Linked DNA regions of Homo sapiens: region 2 is linked to region 1. A link means that fine-mapping ties the variant in region 1 to the plasma level of a protein whose gene starts in the linked region. Region 1 holds a variant in brackets. A gene starts in the other region. All regions are shown on their forward strands.

Region 1 (9,482 bases):
TGTTTTCATTTTATCTTTCTTTTCCTATTTATTTAGAGACAGGGTTTCGCCATGTTGCCCAGGCTGGTCTGAACTCCCGGACTCAAGCCATCTGCCCATGCCGGCCTCCCAGTGTGCTGGGATTACAGGAGGAAGCCACTGTGACCAGCCTGAAAGTGTTCATTTTTAAATTTTTAATAGAGATGGGGTCTCACTATGTCACCCAGGCTGGTCCGAAACTCCTGGGCTCAAACCATCCGCCCACCTCGGCCTCCCAAAGTGCTGGGATCACAGGTGGGAGCCACGCGCCCGGCCCCAAAGCCCTCCTTGCACAAGCACCTGAGCCGCCATGGCCCACAGGCCCATCAAAACCAGAGCAAACTGGTACCTGTGATACAGCCTCCACTCCAGCCCCAGGGCCCAGCCCCAGGCCACCCGAGCCGGCTGTGGGTGACCTGAGACCAAGTGTCGTTTCCTGCTATAAACTATTGATGCCTGAGCAGTCACCTCCAGGAGCTCCGGGCTTGGCTACGGTGTCCTGGGTTCCCTGTAATGAAGCCCGGGGCAGCTGCGGCCTGGAGGGCGTCTGCTCCGCCTCCATCCTGGGCCCGCCTGGGGCTCTTTTCCTTCTAGGCCTGGTTCCCTCCAAAATTAGCTTCCTATCGGGATCCCACATCCCCTCACAATGGAGGCCTGACCTCTGGGGAGACACAATGTCAGGGTCACTGTGAGGTTTTTATTTATGTACTTTTATTTTTATTTATTTGATACCGAGTCTCACTGTGTTGTCCAGGCTGGACTGCATTAGTGTGATCCTGGCTCACTGCAACCTCTGCCTCTCGGGCTCAAGCGATTCTCCTGCCTCAGCCTCCCAAGTAGCTGGGATTACAGGCACCCACCACCACGCCCGGGTAATTTTTTTGTATTTTTAGTAGAGACGGGGTTTCACCGTGTTCGCCAGGATGGTCTCGGTCTCCTGACCTCGTGATCTGCCCGCCTCAGCCTCCCAAAGTGCTGGGATGACAGGCGTGAACCACCGCGCCCGGCCTCGATTTACTCATTTTTTTTGAGAGAGAGAGAGAGTCTCACTCTGTCACCCAGGCTGGAGTGCAGTGGCGTGATCTCAGCTCACTGCAACCTCCGCCTCTTGGGTTCAAATAATAATTCTCCTGCCTCAGCCTCCCGAGTAGCTGGGATTACATGTGTATGCTACCACACCCAGCTAATTTTTATATCTTTGGTAGAGACAGGCTTTTGCCCTGTTGGCCAGGCTGGTCTCGAACTCCTGACCTCAGGGCATCCACCCGCCTCAGTCACCCAACGTGCTGGGATCACAGGCGTGAGCCACCGCGCCTGGCCTGACTTTATTATTGTTTTACAAAGAGCAGACCTTCCACCTGCCATGGATAAAACGCCGAGTTCTAGAGGACACTGGAGACAGAGTGTTCCCCAGAACAAGGCCTGGGCGCAGCAGCCTGCAGGGCTGGGGTCTCCACTCCCGGGGGAGCGTGCAGCGGGGCCTGCCATCCCTCTGTGCCCCCGCCCCACCCCCACTCTGCAGGCCGCTGACCCTGTGGTCGGGCTGGTGAGCAGATGGCTGCTGGATCACTGACAGCCCGGCTCACGTTCCCTCTCCCTATGGAGACATCTTCCTTTTAATAAATTTTGCAAGGCCGTGGAGGGGGGCCAGCGCTCTGGCCCACGTCTGTCTCCCATCCCCATCACCACACGAGGCCCCAGCACGCCTGGCTGGCCTAAGTCCCCGCAGGATGAATGGGCTTCCGGGGCCTGCTGGGACCAGGTAAGCAGGCTGTGCGGCTTAAAACAACACAAATACACTCTCGTCTCTGGAGGCCGGAAGTCTGAAGTGAAGGTGTGCAAGGTGCCAGGCGAGTACCCTCCCGGCCTCTTCCAGCTCCTGGTGCCGACAGCCACCTCTGACCCTCCTGGACTTGCGGCCGCTTCCCTCCCAATTCTGCCTCTGCTGCCCCACGGCGGTCTCCTCTGCATCTGTGTCCAAATTTCCCTTGTCTCCCGAAGTCGCCTGTCACTGCGGTGGTGCCCGCCCTAATGATCTCATCCTAACTAATTACATCTGCAGAAACCCTATTTCCACATAAGGTCCCATTTGTAGGTGCCTGGGGTTCACGCAAAGACAGATCTTTGAGGGAACTCAATTCACCCCACCCCGGGGAGTTTGCCTTTGTGGCCGGCCCTTCCCCCTCAGATCAAATTCTGCCTCCTCAGCGAGGCCTTCCTGACCCTCCCGGGCCCTTCCTGCCTTTCTCTCTGGCTGCGGCTGTTTCCTGCGGGGCTGGCTGCAGCTCCCGGCGGCGCCCTGTCCTGTACCTGTTTCATGTCCATCGTCGGCAACCCCTGGCTTCTAACACAGCTCATTGCCCGCAGGACCTCCCAGCAGGAGCAGGGACCCAGTAGGCCCTGCGTCTCCGTCCGAACCACAAGCTGCTGTGGGTGGTCACTTGACAGAAAGACCCCTGCCCCCCCTTCCTTATTTGTTTATTTGCTTTTTCTGTTGCTTTAGAGACTGGATTTTGCCCTGTCATCCAGGCTGGAGTGCAGTGGCGAAATCTCGGTTCACTGCAGCCTCCATCTCCTGGGCTCTGGTGAGACTACGGCCTTAGCCTCCTGAATAGCTGAGACCACAGGCGTGCACCACCACGCCCAGCTGATTCTTTGACTTTTGTTTATACAGGGTTTTGCCATGTTGCCCAGGGTGGTTTCAAAGTCCTGGCCTCAAGCAATCCTCGTGCCTCGCCCTCCCGAAGTGATGGGATTATAGGCATGAACAACTACCCACTTCACTCCATCCTTTCCTTTTTTTTTTTTTTTGAGACAGAGTCTTACTCTGTCACCAGGCTGGAGTGCAATGGTGCGATCTCAGCTCACTGCAACCTCCGCCTCCCAGGTTCAAGCGATTCTCCTGCCTCAGCCTCCCGAGTAGCTGGGATTACAGGCATGCACCACCACACCTGGCTAATTTTGTATTTTTAGTAGAGAAAGGGTTTCACCATGTTGGTCAGGCTGGTCTTGAACTCCCGACCTCAGGTGATCCACCCACCTCAGCCTCCCAAACTGCTGGGATTACAGGCATGAGCCACCACACCCGGCCGAGACAGGGTTTTCAGGCGATCTGCCTGCCTCGGGCTCCCGAAGTGCTAGGATTACAGGCGTGAGCCACTGGGCCTGGCTTTATTTAATTTTTTGAGATGGGATCTCACTCTGTGGCCCAGGATGGAGTGCAGTGGTGGGATCCCAGCTAACTACAGCCTTGAACTCCTGGCCTCAAGGGATCCTCCCGCCTGGGTTTCCCAAAGGGCTGGGAATGACAGGTGTGAGCCCCCACCCCCCTGGCCTGGATATTTCATAGAAATGGGATCACACGGGGCCAGGCGCGGTGGCTCACGCCTGTCATCCTAGCACTTTGGGAGGCCGAGGCGGGCGGATCACCTGAGGTCAGGAGTTTGAGACCAGCCTGGCCAACATGGTGAAACCCCATCTCTACTAAAAATACAAAAATTAGCTGGGCTTGGTGGTGGGTGCCTGCAATCTCAGCTCCTTGGGACTCTGAGGCAGGAGAATTGATTGAACCAGGAGGCAGAGGTTGCAGTGAACTGAGATCGTGCCATTGCACTCCAGCCTGGGCAGCAAGAGCCAAACTCTGTCTCGAAAAAATAAAATAAATGGGATCACACGCTGTGTGTCCTTCTGTGTCTGGCGTCTCTCACGGAGCGTGACGTCCTTAAGGTGCATCCGCGCTGTGGCCTGGGTCAGAGCCTGGATCCTTTTCACGCTGAGTTGTGTTCCGCGGTGGACGGCCGGCACTGGGTTGGTCTTTTCTTCCACTAACGGGAATTTGGGCTGTTTCCACATGTGGCCTCCGTGAATAACACTACGATGAACGTTCATGTACGCGTTTCTGTGTGGACTTGTGTTTCCCCTTCTCTCAGGGGCATGAATAGGAGGAGAATTGCGGGGTTCCTGAGGGCCGGCCCCCAGTGCTGGCACATCCCCAAGCCAAGCCCCACCCCTCTTTTTTTTTTTTGAGACAGAGTCTTGCTCCGTCACCCATGCTAGAGTGCAATGGCCCCATCTCGGCTCACTGCAACCTCCGCCTCCTGAGTTCAAGCAATTCTCCTGCCTCAGTCTCCCGAGGAGCTGAGGTTACAGGCACCCACCACCATGCCCAGATAATTTTTGTTTTTTTAGTGGGAGACGGGGTTTCCCCATGTTGGCCAGGCTGATCTTGAACTCCTGATCTCAGGGATCCACGCACCTCAGCACCCTCTTTGGAAGTTCCTAGCAAGTTCTCTGCCTGAGTTCAGACCCACAGGGCCTCTTAGGGGACGGGGGAGGGTCAGGGCCCAGCTCTAGCTGAACTCCCCCGGGGGGAGGGGGGAGGGGGGAGGCTCAGGACCCAGCTCTAGGGGGGATTGAGGAGGATCAGGGCCCAGCTCTAGCTGAACTCCCCTGGGGGTAGGGAGGAGGGTCAGGGCCCAGCTCCAGCTGAACTCCCCTGGGTGGGGTGGGGAAAGAGGGTCAGGCTGGGGAGGGGAGCACAGAATGGCGGGGTGCCAGGCCTGGGGGAGAGGCGGATGGGGTGGGGAAGGATGGGTCTGGGCAGATAACGCTGTGGCCTTTTCCTGTTGGCCTGAGGGCCCAGGGTGGGGGTGGGGAGAGGCTGGTCTCCCTGAGGTCTGGGCATAGGGAGGTGTCCTGGGATGAGAAGACTCTTGAGAAGTGACTTTGATAATTCGGGGGCAGATCCTTGGGCCCACCACCCCTTGCAGGGACAGGGGTCCTTCTTGGGGTGGGGGATGAACAGAGACTGGAGAGGGTGGGGGAGAAAGGAGTTGAGGGGCTAATTTACAGGACCTCTCAGGCCGGGTGTGGCAGCTCACACCTGTCATCCCAGCACACTGGGCAGCTGAGGCAGGAGGACCCCTTGAGCCCAGGAGTTTGAGACCAGCCTGGGTAACACGGTGAGATTCTGTGTCTACAAAACATTTTTTAAAATGAGCCAGGCGTGGTGGAACTACTTGCTTATAGCCCCAGCTACCGAGAGGCTGAGGCGGGAGGATCACCTGAGCTGGGGAGGTTGGGGCTGTGGGGAGCCGAGACTGTGCCTCTGCACTCCAGCCTGGGCAACAGAGTGAGACCCTGCCTCAAAAAAATAAATAAACAAAAAATAAATAAAGCCCCCATTCCCTTTAGGATCTCTACTTCCTATACCAACCCACTGTCCCAGCTTGGAGGGGCGGGACCAGCCTCGAGCCGCAGTTGATTCCCAGAGCACAGAGCACAGGACGGAAGTGGTTCTGCATGGGGTATAGTGAGGCCAGGGAATAGCAATGCATTCCTGTCCGTGAGTCCTGGCCATCAGGCCTTGGGGTGGCCTCACCGAACCCCCACTCCAAGCTCCGTTCAACAGAAATCCAGGAAATGGGCCGGAGAGGCTGGGAGACCACCCAGGAGACCAGCCCGAGGCCGCGCCCTGGATCCCTGAGCCCTCACTTTTGTAATTAAGATAATAAACCTGTGCTGGCTGTGCGGGCACACACCTGTCATCCCAGCACTTTGGGAGACCAAGGCGGGCAGATCACCTGAGGTCAGGAGTTCGAGACCAGCCTGGCCAACACAGTGAAACCCCATCTCTACTAAAAATACAAAAATTAGGCTGGGTGTGGTGGCTCACAGGTGGATTACAGGGTGGCCTGTAATCCCAGCACTTTGGGAGGCCAAGGAGGGCAGATCACAAGGTCAAGAGATCGAGACCATCCTGGCCAACATGCTGAAACCCCGTCTCTATTAAAAGTATAAAAATTAGCTGGGCATGGTGGTGGGCGCCTGTAGTCCCAGCTACTCGGGAGGCTGAGGCAGGAGACTCGCTTGAACCCAGGAGGCGGAGGTTGCAGTGAGCTGAGATCACGCCATTGCACTCCAGCCTGGGCGACAGAGCGAGACGCCGTCTCAGAAAAAGAAAAAAATAAATCAAATAAAAAAATAAGAATAAAAATACAAAAATTAGCTAGGCGTGGTGGCAGGCACCTGTAATCCCAACTACTCAGGAGGCTGACGCAGAAGAATCACTTGAACCCGGGAGGCAGAGGTTGCAGTGAGCCAAGATTGCGCCACTGTACTCCAGCCTGGGCAATAGAGTGAGGTTCCATCCCCCCCAAAAAAAAAACAAAAAAAAAGGAAAAGGAAAAATAAATCTATGGAACTGCTCATGGGGAGGAGGGACGGCCTGGCCCTGCCACTCATGTTGACGAAGAAGTAAACTGAGGCACGGCCCTTCCCTCCCCCATCAGAACTGAAAGGTGTCTGAGGCCCCAGCAGGCCCTCTGCATGAGATTCGGTGGCTCTGAGGGCCTCAGATGTCCTCACTCCCCCCCCCGTTTCTCCTGCCAGGCTCAGAGTATCATTTTCAAAATGGTAACCAGCAAACCAACGTGATTCTCGCACAAAGGCAAGGTGAGCCTGTTCCTCGCTCACCCTGAATCATTCATGAAGGAGGCAGCTGGCCTGCGGGCTGGGATGGGAGACAGGAGAGGAGAAAAGACAGAGGCTGGGCCCTGCTCGCTAAATAAATCAGGTGCCCACGGGAGCCCCTGGGCGTCTTCCCGCGCTGGCGTTCTGCATATGACAGCTGACCTGTAAATTGCTGGGCCCTCAGCCATGGTTACTGTCAGGCCAGCCCAGGAAGGACACTGGTTTCAGGTGACCTGGGTGAGGTGGAGGCGGTGGGGGGGGTTCCTGGGACCAGGCCGCCATTGCAAAAACAAACGGCCTGCTTGTACCTGCTATCGCCCTCTAAGCTTCAGGTGGTGGGTGGGGCTGAGGGGCTGAGAGGTGGCCCCAAAGAAAGACAACCACATCCTAAACCCTGGAACCCGTGAACAAGGCTTCATTTGGAACACCAGTCTTTGAAGGTACCATTAAGTGTCTTGAGATGAGATCATCCTGGAGTCTGCAGGTAGACCCTAAATTCCGCGACATACATTTTATTTTTTATTTTTACTTTTTTTTTTGAGATAGCGTGTCACTCTGTTGCCCAGGCTGGAGTACAGTGGCGTAATCTAGGCTCACTGCAACCTCCGCCTCCCGCGTTCAAGTGATTCTCCCGCCTCAGTCTCCCGAGTAGCTGGGATTACAGGAGCAAACCACCACGCCCGGCAAATTTTTGTATTTTTAGTGGAAACGGGCTTTCACCATGTTGGCCAGGATAGTCTCAGGCTCTTCACCTTGTGATCCGCCTGCCTCGGCCTTCCAAAGTGCTGGGATGACAGGTGTTTATTTTCGTTTTTGTTTTTTAGAGACAGAGTTTCACTCCTGTTGCCCAGGCTGGAGTGCAATGGCGCAATCTCGGCTCACTGCAACCTCCGCCTCCCGGGTTCAAGTGATTCTCTTGCCTCAGCCTCCCAAGGAGCTGGGATTATAGGGCATGCACCACCACGCCTGGCTAATTTTTGTATTTTTGGTGGAGAGGAGGTTTCTCCATGTTGGCCAGGCTGGTCTCGAACTCTGACCTCAGGTGATCCACTCACCTCGGCCTGCCAGAGTGCTGGGATTACAGGTGTGAGCCATTGCACCCGGCCAGACACTGTCTTAAAAAAATAAAAATAAAAAAAGGTACTGGACAGGTGGCTGGTCATGTGGGGCTTGCGGGGTAAGGGATGGCCTTGGGTTTATACTTTGAGCAAGACAGGAGGCCTGGCGGGGCCACGATCAGAAGTGGGTTTTAACACGATTCCGAAGGGTTAGACTGGTGCTTGGAACCTGGTGGTCTCTACTGCTGCCAGCTGCCACTCAGACCCCCGGCCGCCCCTGCCTGTCTGCTTTCAGGGCGGGGCCCATCCCAGGCACTCCGCGAACAGACAGAAGCGGCTGGTTCTGGTGGTGTGAGGATGGGGGTCTCCAGGGGAGCAAATCCACAGTAACACACTGGGCTTCTCCCAGATCCACCGGACATTCCTGATGAGTGACCCTGGCTGCAGATGGCTCTTGGTGAGTCTCCGTTGACCGGGTGGTTCGGGCCAAAGGACCTTGCCGTGCGATGCCTCCATGGAGCTCGGCGGCCACCCCTAATCCGGGCTGGAATCCTCTGGCACC[A/G]GACGCCCGGCGGGGCTCCAAGGCTCCTGGGCCCACGCCAGGCCCCGGCCTGAAACGCAGCACTGCTGGAATAAAACACGCCAGAGAAGCAGGGCGCTAGGCTCGCCTGGATTTGGGGAAACGAGAATTGTCATGTCTTCTCCCTCCGTAGGTTGGTGTTAATGAAAAACCCCCTTTTCAGCATGGACTAAATCCCGCTAATTCTATTTAGGGAGCAGTGTCTACTCCGGGCCGGGAACTGCTCCGGTTTCCAACCGCAGCCTCCCGTGAGGGTCCCAGTGTGGAGGGCCGGGGTCATCCCCTCACTCTGGGATGGCTCCCAACCCGCTGACCTGGCCTCCCCGTCAGGCACCCTCACAGCTCTGTCAGACTCTTCATGTGATCAGCGCTCCTGGGAACATTAGTTTAGGGTGTTTTCTGCTGCTGGGATGGTGGCCCGGGAGGGACCCTCCTGGTGACCCTGCTGGGCCTGGCCCTCAGTTTCCCCAGCCGTAGGCTGGCAGCCTCGAACTGTACGAGCTCCAGGCCACAGTTTCCCCAGCTGTAGGTCAGTGGGCCAGGGACTGTAGGGGGCTCGGGCCTCAGTTTCCCCAGCTGTAGGCGGGTGGCTTGGGCCTCAGTTTCCCCACCTGTAGGCGGGCGGCCTTGGATTGTATGGAGCCCGGGCCTCAGTTTCTCCAGCTGTAGGCGGATGGCCGTGGACTGTGTGTGGCCTGGGCCTCAGTTTCCCCCGCTGTAGGCAGATGGCCGTGGACTGTGTGTGGCTTTGGCCTCAGTTTCCCCAGCTGTAGGCGGATGGCCGTGGACTGTGTGTGGCCCGGACCTCAGCTTCCCCAGCTTTAGGCGGTTGGCCGCGGACTGTGCAAAGTCCAGGCCTCAGTTTCCCCAGCTGTAAGCGGGCGGCCGCCCACTGTACAAGGTCCAGGCCTCAGTTTCCCCAGCTGTAGGTGAGAGGCCGCGGACTGTACAAGGTCCAGGCCTCAGTTTCCCCAGCTGTAGGCGGGCGGCCAAGGACTGCAAGGTCCAGGCCTCAGTTTCCCCACCTGTAGGCGGGCGGCCGCGGACTGTACAAGGTCCAGGCCTCAGTTTCCCCAGCTGTAGGTGAGAGGCCGCGGACTGTACAAGGTCCAGGCCTCAGTTTCCCCAGCTGTAGGCGGGCGGCCGCCTACTGTATAAGGTCCAGGCCTCAGTTTCCCCAGCTGTAGGCGGGCGGCCGCGGACTGTACAAGGTCCAGGCCTCAGTTTTCCCAGCTGTAGGCAGCCGGCCGCGGACTGTGCGGGGCCCGGACCTCAGTTTCCCTATCTCCGCAGTCGGGATTCGCTGTTCCGGGGCGAACAAAGAACGGTCGGGGGTGACCCCGGATCATGGCGCG
Region 2 (9,482 bases), not on the chromosome of region 1:
ACCTGCTGTAAAGTTTGGAGGCCCACAGGTCTACGGGTTTCAGGACACTGACCCAGTCACCTAGAAGCGTGCCTACTCTCAGGCAAAACCCAAAGGGTCCTGTCAGTGGCCTCTTGTGCAAGCAACACTCCCTTGAGTGAACTCCACTAAAACTGTAGAAGAAAACCACCTGCTGAAGAGCAAGGACCTTTAATTCAATTAAACCCAAACATTGAGAATGAGTTATGAGCCACTAACCATGTTCCATTCATCTTTATATTCTCTGTGGTGCCAGAGGATGCCTTTCTCCAAGCTCCCCCGACTCAATCCACTCAGAATCTAAGTAAGAGTAGAGCTCTTGCTGTACATACATGGCTCCAAGACAAGGCCCCTGGGGATTGTTCCTTCCAATCAGATTACCACCACTAAGCTCCTCCTAGGTAGAAAACCTGGAGTCACCCTGGACAGTCTGACCTCCAGGAGCTTGAATCCAGTGGCAGAAATAGACATGCACACAAACCTCTGTGTGATTTGATATGATAGAGGAACGTGTCTGGTGCTATGAGCACACACACAGGAGGGAGCAAAGAATTTTGCATTTGGGAGTTAGAGAAGCCCCTAAAAAATGTGACACTTGAGAAATGGAAAAGCATTTTAGATAAAGGGAACAGCAAGATAAAAGGTTTGCAGTGAGAAAATATCACAGGTGACAAACAAGAACCGGGCAAGTCATAAGTGAGGAAACGCTGACTAGGCCAGGGAGCAATAGGGAGCCCTAGGGCATGTGCAGACAGGAAGTACATGCCCTGTTAACAAGGTGGCAGCCCATCTGACATCTGCTGACGGTTTCTACACTGAAACAGGTCCAATATTACCAGGACTTTTGATTTATTAAGAGAAGCTGGAAATCTGGGGCCTTAGGCAAAATCTCCTGACTTAAAAAAAACACTTTGGCATCTAGATCCCCATGAATTCCAACATGATATGGACCAAACACAATTGCTCACAAGGGAGATTCAGCCTGAAGGTGGCCAGTCAGCCACCTGGAACCTGGAAGCTTGGCTGGAAGTGAAGCTAGGAAGAGTGTGGGGAATCTAACCTGAAGAGGCAAGCCTGCAGGCAGAGGAGTTGAGACTGCCTTTTGTGGCATTTGATGAAGGGAGGGGTGTCACTTAAGCTTAAGCTGAGGAGTGACATGGACAGATTGCTCATTGGGAAGATCTGTCTTGTAAAGGGTAGACCCTCATGGCCAGTTTGAAGACTGTTTCTGGAATGGTAATAAAGTCCTGAAATAGAACCATAGAGGCGAAACTGGGTGGTCGGGGGAGGAATAGATCTGAGAGATGTTTTACCATCTAATCAGTGACTGCAGGACTAGACAGTGGATGGGGAACTGGGGGTACGAGATACAGGAAAGGGAGTTGTCAAGAGTACATACTTTTAGCATTCATCTCTAATTTTGGCCAGGCATGGGGGACAGTGGGTGGGTGGGGACCAAATACAAAAGACAACAAAGAGTATTCTAGCTTAGGATCTCTCTCACCTTTGGCGCTGTTGTCATCTTGAGTAGAGTAAGTCTTTGTTGTGGGGGCGGTCGTGTGCATTGTATTAACAGCAGCATCCCCAGCCTCTACTCACTGCATTCCAGAAGCATGCCCCCGCTTCAGTCATGACAACCAAAAATATCTCTCCATATTGCCGAATGTCCCCTGGGATGTAAAATTGCCCCTGGTTGGGGGCCACTGATCCAGAATCGGGAGGGAAATTCCCTGTTTTCAACTTCTCCTTTTTCTTTGTTTTGCAGTGGTGTGAGGTTTTGCTTAGAGGACTCTTTGTGAGATTTTTGTCTAAGGGACCAGCACTTTTAGCTAAGCCCTTGGAATATGCTGGTGTCTGTGTCCCTTTTGGACTCAGGAAGGTGTCTCTAAATGGATGGAAGGACACCTGACTTTGGAAAGAGGGACATCATTCTTTCCTGCCAGACATTTTCTTGCATATGCCCTTTTCAGCCTCCAGTTACAGAAATGGACGAAGACTTAGTGAGAAGGGCAAAGGTCAAAACAGTTGAGTGGAGTGGCCTAGGTACACAGGGCAGCGCAGAACTCCAGCCACCCCGGGCCAAAGTGAAAGAAAGGCCACTGGTAGTCTCGCACCCAAGTCATCAGGACTCTAAGGGTTAAACTTGATGTTGACTCATCATGATTTTGATTTACACAAAGCCAAACTGAAAGCTCCTTGTCTACTGCAGTTCCTGGAAAGCCTTCTATCTGTCTTCATTCTTCCTGCAGACCAGGGCAGTGGCCTGATTCAATCCAAGACGCTCTTCGAATCACACTACACGGAGATTACAAATACAAGTTTTATGTTGAAGAAACAGCATTCCTGACTCTTTCCACCCCCTTCCAAAAATTTGAAAAATCGTTGCATGATGTTCAGGGTCGGGAAGAAAGGAAAGTAACAATATAGTCTTAAGGCCAGCAGGCCGGAACTATCTTGGTGAAAAGAAATCAGGTCTCTCCCCTCTCCACACTGCCGTTTGTTTTTTTTCCTCACGATGTTCAGATTCTCAGGGCTTTTCTGGAAGCTCATGACAAGCTGCAATCCCTATTTTTCTAATCATTTGCTACCATTACTGTTTTATTAAGCGCTTGGTCAATCTATGCCAAGCAGTGCCCATGATGGCACTCAGCCAGTCCCCAGGGGCTCCTGTTCCAACTAAAGACTCCTTAAAAGGCAGATGACATAACCATTTTGGAAACGTTATTATAAACTTATTGTATAATGTTTATAGCAAATGTCAACAAGTGTATATGTCCGTGGTGGTGGAGGAAAGGCCTTGGGATACACAGTGGCTGACCTATTTGTGGGAGGGATTTAGAAATAATGATACTATCTCTCAGTTCTACAGGCCTTGATACTTTACAAACTGTTTTCATAAACATTATTTTGTTCGATAACACATGCAAGCCAGGATTTATTTTTTTTTTTTTTGAGAACGGGGTCTCACTCTGTTACAGACCCAGGCTGGTTTTGAACTCCTGGGCTCAGGTGATCCTTCCACCTCAGCCTCCAGAATAGCTGGGATTACAGGTGCATGCCACCATGCCTGGATTCTGGAATTTATTCTGAACCGTTAGCCAAAAGAATCAACATCCTGAGATTCAGCACAGGCAGGCCCTCCTCCTGGAAGCTTCCCTTGCTCCTTCCCTCCCAAAAGGTACCCTTTTTGTATCCCATAATTCCTTGTTCTTGCCCTTATCATTGCCCCTCAGACTGACTGCAGCTTTCTGTTAGCAGAGCTTGCTTTTGGTGAGTGTCTTCAACAGTTCCTGGAACAATTTCATAAATATTTATTGAGTTTGAGAGCCTTAATTCCAAGAGTGGAACCTTTGTTGTGAATAGGTTAAACAACCCTGTGCCCTTTGGGTGGGGTCTAGACTAGGTATATTATCAGCATTTTTATTGCTATACTTTTTGTAACTGTTTTCAGGTATATGCATTGGCTTAATTCGGCCAAAATACACCTCATTATGGGTCTCATCATCCACCTAGACATGATTCTTTTTTGGGAGAAGGTGATAGAATAATGTCCCCCTCCCATGATTCCATATCGTGATCCCCAACACCTGTGAATATGTTAACTTACATAGCAAAAATGACTTTTCAGTTATGATTAAATCAAGGATTTTGAGATGGGGAGATTATTATGAATTATCTGGTGGACCTAATCTAATCACAAGGGTATTTATAAGGGAAAAGGGGAAGTAAGAGGGTCAGAGTCAGATACGACAAGGGAAGCAGAGGTCTGAGTAGTTCCGCAACAAGCCAAGGAATGTGGGTAGCCTCTAGAAGCTGGAAAAGTCAAAGACACAGATTCTCCCCTAGAATATCCAGAAGGAATACATCTCTGCCCACACCTTGATTTAAGCTCAGTGTCACTTCTGACCTCCAGAACTGTAATAAAATAAAACTGTTAAATCACTAAATTTGTGGTCATTTTTGACAGCAGCAACAGGAAACGCCTAAGGACTCTTGTTTTCCTTCCTCCCAGCCTCACTGACCCTCATAGGCGCCCAAGTATCAATGTGTATTCTTCCGATTCACCTCCCATCCCTTTGAAAAATATGTAGAAAGTTTGTCGTGTGCTTTAAAAAATGCACGTATGGTATCCTCCCTCATGTTTGGAATGTTCCTTTTAAAATCAACATTATGTATTGCCAGCTTTCAAATATGCCCTTTGTCCTTTTCACAAAGCACAGTACTGCCAGTGTCCCCAACTCCACCCAGTGAAGTAGGGCTGGTATTACTAACCCTGGAGTCAGCGCTAGCAAACAAGGGCTCAGAGGTCAAGGGCTGGAAGCCAGGTCTCCAGACTCCCAGGCCAAGGCTCTTTTCCGCAGATGACTCTGTCCTGGTGTCCAGCAGGGCACAGCCCCTAGCACCTCCGAGGCCCCGCAAGTGTGCTGGCAGCGGCGACGCCGGCTCCGCCACGCGGAGGGAGGAGGCCCAGGCAGCGCCCGGAGTGGGCGGCGACGTGGTGGAAGAAGTTTTGTTCGGTCAGAGACCGGACGCGGGAGCTGCGGGTGGGCCAGGTGTCCAGCCTTGGGAGCCGTAGGAGCCGCCAGAGCCGCCAGAGCCGCCGGCGCCCCGCCCCGCCTCCTCCGGCCGCTCTCGCCGGCTCAGGTTACCTGAGGCCGGTGGGCGGGGCGGCCCTTCCCGTCTGCGCCGGCCCCCAGCCTCCAGGGCGGCGGAGCCGGGAAGTGGAAGAGGGAGCGAAGGAGGCGGGGACTGCCAAGGCTCCAGCCCGGCCGGGCTCCGAGGCGAGAGGCTGCATGGAGTGGCCGGCGCGGCTCTGCGGGCTGTGGGCGCTGCTGCTCTGCGCCGGCGGCGGGGGCGGGGGCGGGGGCGCCGCGCCTACGGGTGAGTGCGACCCTCGGGGCCCGAGGGGCGGCCGGAGGGCTGAGGGCGGTGAGGGTCACGGCTGAAAGGCCCCGGAGGTCAACGCCGGGCGGAGGGCCGAAGCTGGGGTGGGTGCTGGGGGCTGCCCTCGCGAGGCCCCGCGCTCGGCGGCTGCGGCTTCCCGCGCGGGATCTCTGGGGCCCGGTACTGGGGCCGGTTCGAGGTGGGACCCGGGAGCTGCGGGGTTTTCCCGAACTCCGGGTGCGGCGGAGGTGGCGGCAGCGAAGTAAGAGGGCTGCGACTTGTAGTGGGAAGAGCCCAGGAGGCTGGCGTCCAGGCGTGCGGGGGCGGGGGGCCCGAAACATGCCCACGGCGTCAGAGGGCCGTGGGTCAGCGCCCGGAATGTCGCCTGTGAGCCCGGGAGGAAATGAGGCGCCAGAGCCGGCGGGGACCACGACCGAAGTCCAGGCGAGCTGAGAACGCGCCGGGGCTCTTTGCCCGAGGCCGCGCCAATCCTCACTGTCTAAGGGTGGCTCTTGCGAGTGGAAGTTGAAGGGAACCTCTAAACATCTCAGTCCTTGTTGAAAAAGGACGTGACGCTCATGACCTCCTCTGGCGTCGAAGAAATCCTTTGGGAAATCCAGAATAGCATCCCGGCAGATGCTCCCCCCACCCCACTCTCTTTAATAAACCTTATATTTTAGGGTAATTGTAGATTTATGGAAAAGTTGCAAAGATACTTCAGAGAGTTGTGTATATCCCTCACCCTGTTTGGTAACTTCTAGTTAATCAACCTGGCAGTTGTGAAAAATTGGGAGTTAATGACTTCCTTAGGAGCAGCTCCTGGAAGGAATGGCCTTCTGGACGTTTTTGGTGACAATGAAAGCCCCAAACTGTATAGGTTTTATTATCACATTGACACAAACACTTATATATGCTTATTGCATTTTTACCAATGTGCTTTGAAATCCAAGTTGAAATGTTGATTAGGAAACCTTAATGCCCTCTATGGATTCAGTCAATAAAATACATGCTGCCAGGCAGTGTTTAGGGGCTGAGGATGCAGCAGTGAGCAAAACAGATGAGGTGCCTGCCCTCAGACATATCGGGGGGTGGGGGTAAAATATATGATATGTCTGAGGGTGTTAAGTAGAGAAAAACAGAGCAGGTGGGAAGGGGTTTGCCATTGTAAAAAGGGTGGATCGAGAAGAAAACAAATGTTGCTGAAAGGTGGCATTTGAGTAGAGACCTGAGGGAGACTTGAAGCTTGTCAGTCAATAATTATTCAGGTGTCTGCCTTATTTAGTACTGAGTCAGGCCCTCTAGGTTGACTTAGAACCTGAGAGTGTATAGCAAAATTCTTGCCCCAAAAGGGCCTCTAGTTTAGTTGGGTACACCTGATTTCCGTAATCATATGGGGACATTGCAGTCCAGAGAAGGGAAGGAACTTGTCTAAAGTTACCCGTCTCATTAGTCTCCTGATTTTCACAGTGCCACTCCAGCACCCTCCCTCCTACAGACTCACTCCCACACACACCTGAAACAACAGCTGGCCATCTAGAGAATACTGGCAACTCCCAACTTCATCAGTCCTGTCACAATGGTTTGTCGTTAGCTTGCTTATTTAGAAAACAAACTTCTTTCCCCATTAAAAGTATTGATAGAATTGCATTGAGGTATGGTGGGAAAAAATTAGATGTTTCCAGTGAGACTTGAGTTTTAGTGGTTCTGATATTTACCACCTGTGGGACTCTGGGCTGGTCATTTCCTCTCTTTTGTGCTGCAGTTAGTTTTCTCATCTGTGAAATGAGGAGGTTGAACTGCATAAATTCTAAGAGCTCCTCCAGCTCTAATCCTCAGAGTGTTTATAAAAGTGATTAGATTACTAGCTTAGTTTAACCTGTCCCACTCAATGGCCCACATTGTGGCATGTCTTAATTATAACTAGCATGTATATAGCATTTATGCCCAGCAGTTTTCTAGCTGCTTTACTTGTACTATTTCATTTAATCTTTACCAATAATATAACTTGTAGGTGCTGTTATTAGTCCCATTTTGTACACGAAAAAGTTGAGGCACAGTGCGACCAAGACCCTTGCCCAAATTCGCATACCTGGCAAAGTGGAAGAGCTAGGTTTCCAACCCTGGCAGCCTGATTCCAGAGGCCATGCCCTTAACCACTGTACTCATTGCTTCTGCCCAGCAGAAAAGACGAGAGTCCTTAGCTGGACACCTCCCAGGGTAGCAGGGCAGGACGGCTTGGGACCCACGAAAGTATGTGCAAGCCATTTGTTAAGAAGCTAATGATACTATATTAGGCCGGGTGCAGTGGCTCATGCCTGTAATCCCAGCACTTTAGGAGACTGAGGCAGATGGATCACTTGAGGCCAGGAGTTTGAGCCTGGCCAACATGGCAAAACCCCGTCTACTAAAAATACAAAAATTAGCCGAGTGTGGGATTACATGCCTGTAATCCCAGCTACTCAGGAAGCTGAGGCATGAGACTCATTTGATCCTGGGAGGCAGAGGTTGCAGTGAGGGAAGATCAGGCCACTGCACTTCAGCCTGGGCGACAGAGCAAGACTGTCTCAAAACAAAAAAAGAAGCGAATGATACTACATTGGAGACTGGCTTTATAGTGGCTGGGCTGTGTGGTCCAAACAACTAGTACTATAGGCATTCAAAAGAGAAAAAGCTGACGGTTGGTAGTGTTATGGAAGAGGTAAAACTTGAGCTAGATCTTCTGGATGACTGGGATTTGAGTAGGTGGAGAATTTATTCCAGGTGGGGGCAATAGCAGGAGCAGAGACCCAGAAATGAGGGCAAGAGTGCTCCTTTGTGGTCAAGAAGGAACCTGGCTTGGCAGGAGAGTGCATTGGTAAAGTCAATCCAGGCAGAATAGCTTGATTTGCCCTTGAAAGCTCTGAGTCCGGCACAGCATGGGAAAAATAACACAGAAGGAGGAAGCAAGCAGGGAGACTTCACTGGGTAGGGGAGCCCCTGGAGTGTGAAGCTACATAAGAATCTATGGTTGCAGGTCTCCACTAGAAAAATGTGCTGCGAACCCTTCCTGTCCAGGACCATGACTTACTGGTATCTTCCCACCTGGTGGGGCACAACAGAGCATATTTGCATGATTGGGGTAACTAAGAAAGATGTTGGAAGAAAAAAACGAACAGGAGTTGATGCCTGAGTGGATGTAAGGGAAGGGACAGATGACTCATATATGACTCTTGTGATTTCCTTAACTTTTCCCAAAATGTGCATGCCTCTGCTAGCTGCTGTGATTGGACAGGCGAGAGCAAAAGCTATAAGCTAAGCAAAATGCCTTCTTATGAAATAGTAGATTGTGTTAACTCTTAATTTAAATAGGATGTTGTGCTAGATGACTGTACAGACTTGGGATTTGAGGTTTAGATACAGACATACTTGGGTCCCTTCCTACTCCCTTTTCTGAAGTCAGTGGTGCAATCCCCAAGACATGGTTGAAATTAGGTGCCTAAGGGAAGCTTATCAGGTAGAAGGGATACTTGTTCTGTCTCAAAGGCCAGGGACACATATCAATTCAACAGAAAACCAAAGCAACCCTGGCCAGGCACAGTGGTTCACACCTGTAATCCCAGCACTTTGGGAGGCCGAGGTGGGTGGATCACTTGAGGTCAGGAGTTCGAGACCAGCCTGGCCAACATGGCGAAACCCAGTCTCTACTAAAAATACAAAAATTAGCCAGGCGTGGCAGTGCACACCTGTAATCCCAACTACTCGGAAGGCTGAGGCAGGAGAATCGCTTGAACCCAGGAGGCAGAGTTTGCAGTGAGCTAAGATCACACCAGCGCACTCCAGCCTGGGTAACAGAGCGAGACTCCGTCTCCAAAAAAAAAAAAAAAAAGCAACTCTTTAGAATTGTTTTGTCTTAAAGAAATAAAGCAGATAGCTAACACATAGCACTTGCTGCCTGTGGGCACTATTCTAAGCACATTGCTTGTATTAACTCATTTAATCCTCATAATAACCCTTTGCAAGAGGTTACTATTATTATCCTCATATTAGAGATGAGAAAACTGAGAAATAGAGAGGTTAAGTAATTTGCCTGCTGGCAAGTAGTAGAGGTGGGATATAAACTCAGGCAGTCAGGCTCCAGAGTCTGTGCTCTTAAACACTACACTATGTTGAAGTTATACACGAAGAGCTGTTAGAGACCTTTACAAGTAGTATAATCATCACTTAATCATATATATGTCTAGGCATGTTGTATACACACACAGTTCACATGTATTTGTATATATTTAAACATTTGGAGATTAAAGTTTCAGTGCCTGTGTTTTTTTCAATTTTTTATTATAAAATACACATAAAATTTACCATCTTAATCATTTTTAAGTACACAGTTCAGTGTTACGAAATACATTCATAATGCTGTGCAACCATCATCACCATCCATCCCCATAACTCTTTTTATCTTGTAAAACTGAAACTCTGTACCCATTAAACAATAACTCCTCATTTTCCCCTGCCCCTAGCCCCTGGCAAACACCATTCCACTTTCTATCTCTATGATTTTGACTACTCTAAGTATCTCATATGAATGTAATGATATACTATTT

Which allele goes with the higher level. Positions count from the first base shown, and alleles are read on the strand shown. Strength reflects both the effect of a copy and how common the allele is.
For the plasma level of the protein whose gene starts at base 4,779 in region 2, allele G in region 1 goes with a higher level than allele A (weak association).

The links. A credible set is the group of variants that fine-mapping cannot tell apart. PIP is the chance, under the fine-mapping model, that this variant and not a neighbour inherited with it causes the effect. The UK Biobank Pharma Proteomics Project read protein levels with antibody pairs (Olink). The fine-mapping took linkage between variants from a reference panel, not from the people measured, so its PIPs are less certain.
Region 2: IL13RA1 starts here. The variant in region 1 is the best candidate, but not a certain one, in a credible set for the plasma level of the IL13RA1 protein (UK Biobank, PIP 0.75).

The regions. Positions count from the first base shown.
Region 1 is chr19:787,348-796,829 of GRCh38, forward strand. No RefSeq gene overlaps it. Among named protein-coding and RNA genes, the nearest start is that of PTBP1, 5.4 kb to the right of the region's middle. RefSeq lists enhancers at 1-399, 400-968, 9,224-9,482 and cis regulatory regions at 3,851-4,921, 5,219-5,368. The variant A/G (reference allele first, on the strand shown) is at 8,110.
Region 2 is chrX:118,722,828-118,732,309 of GRCh38, forward strand. IL13RA1 (interleukin 13 receptor subunit alpha 1) reads left to right here and starts at 4,779. Exons shown (of 11, transcript NM_001560.3): 1 at 4,779-4,899. The coding sequence starts at 4,812. RefSeq lists a silencer at 4,388-4,817.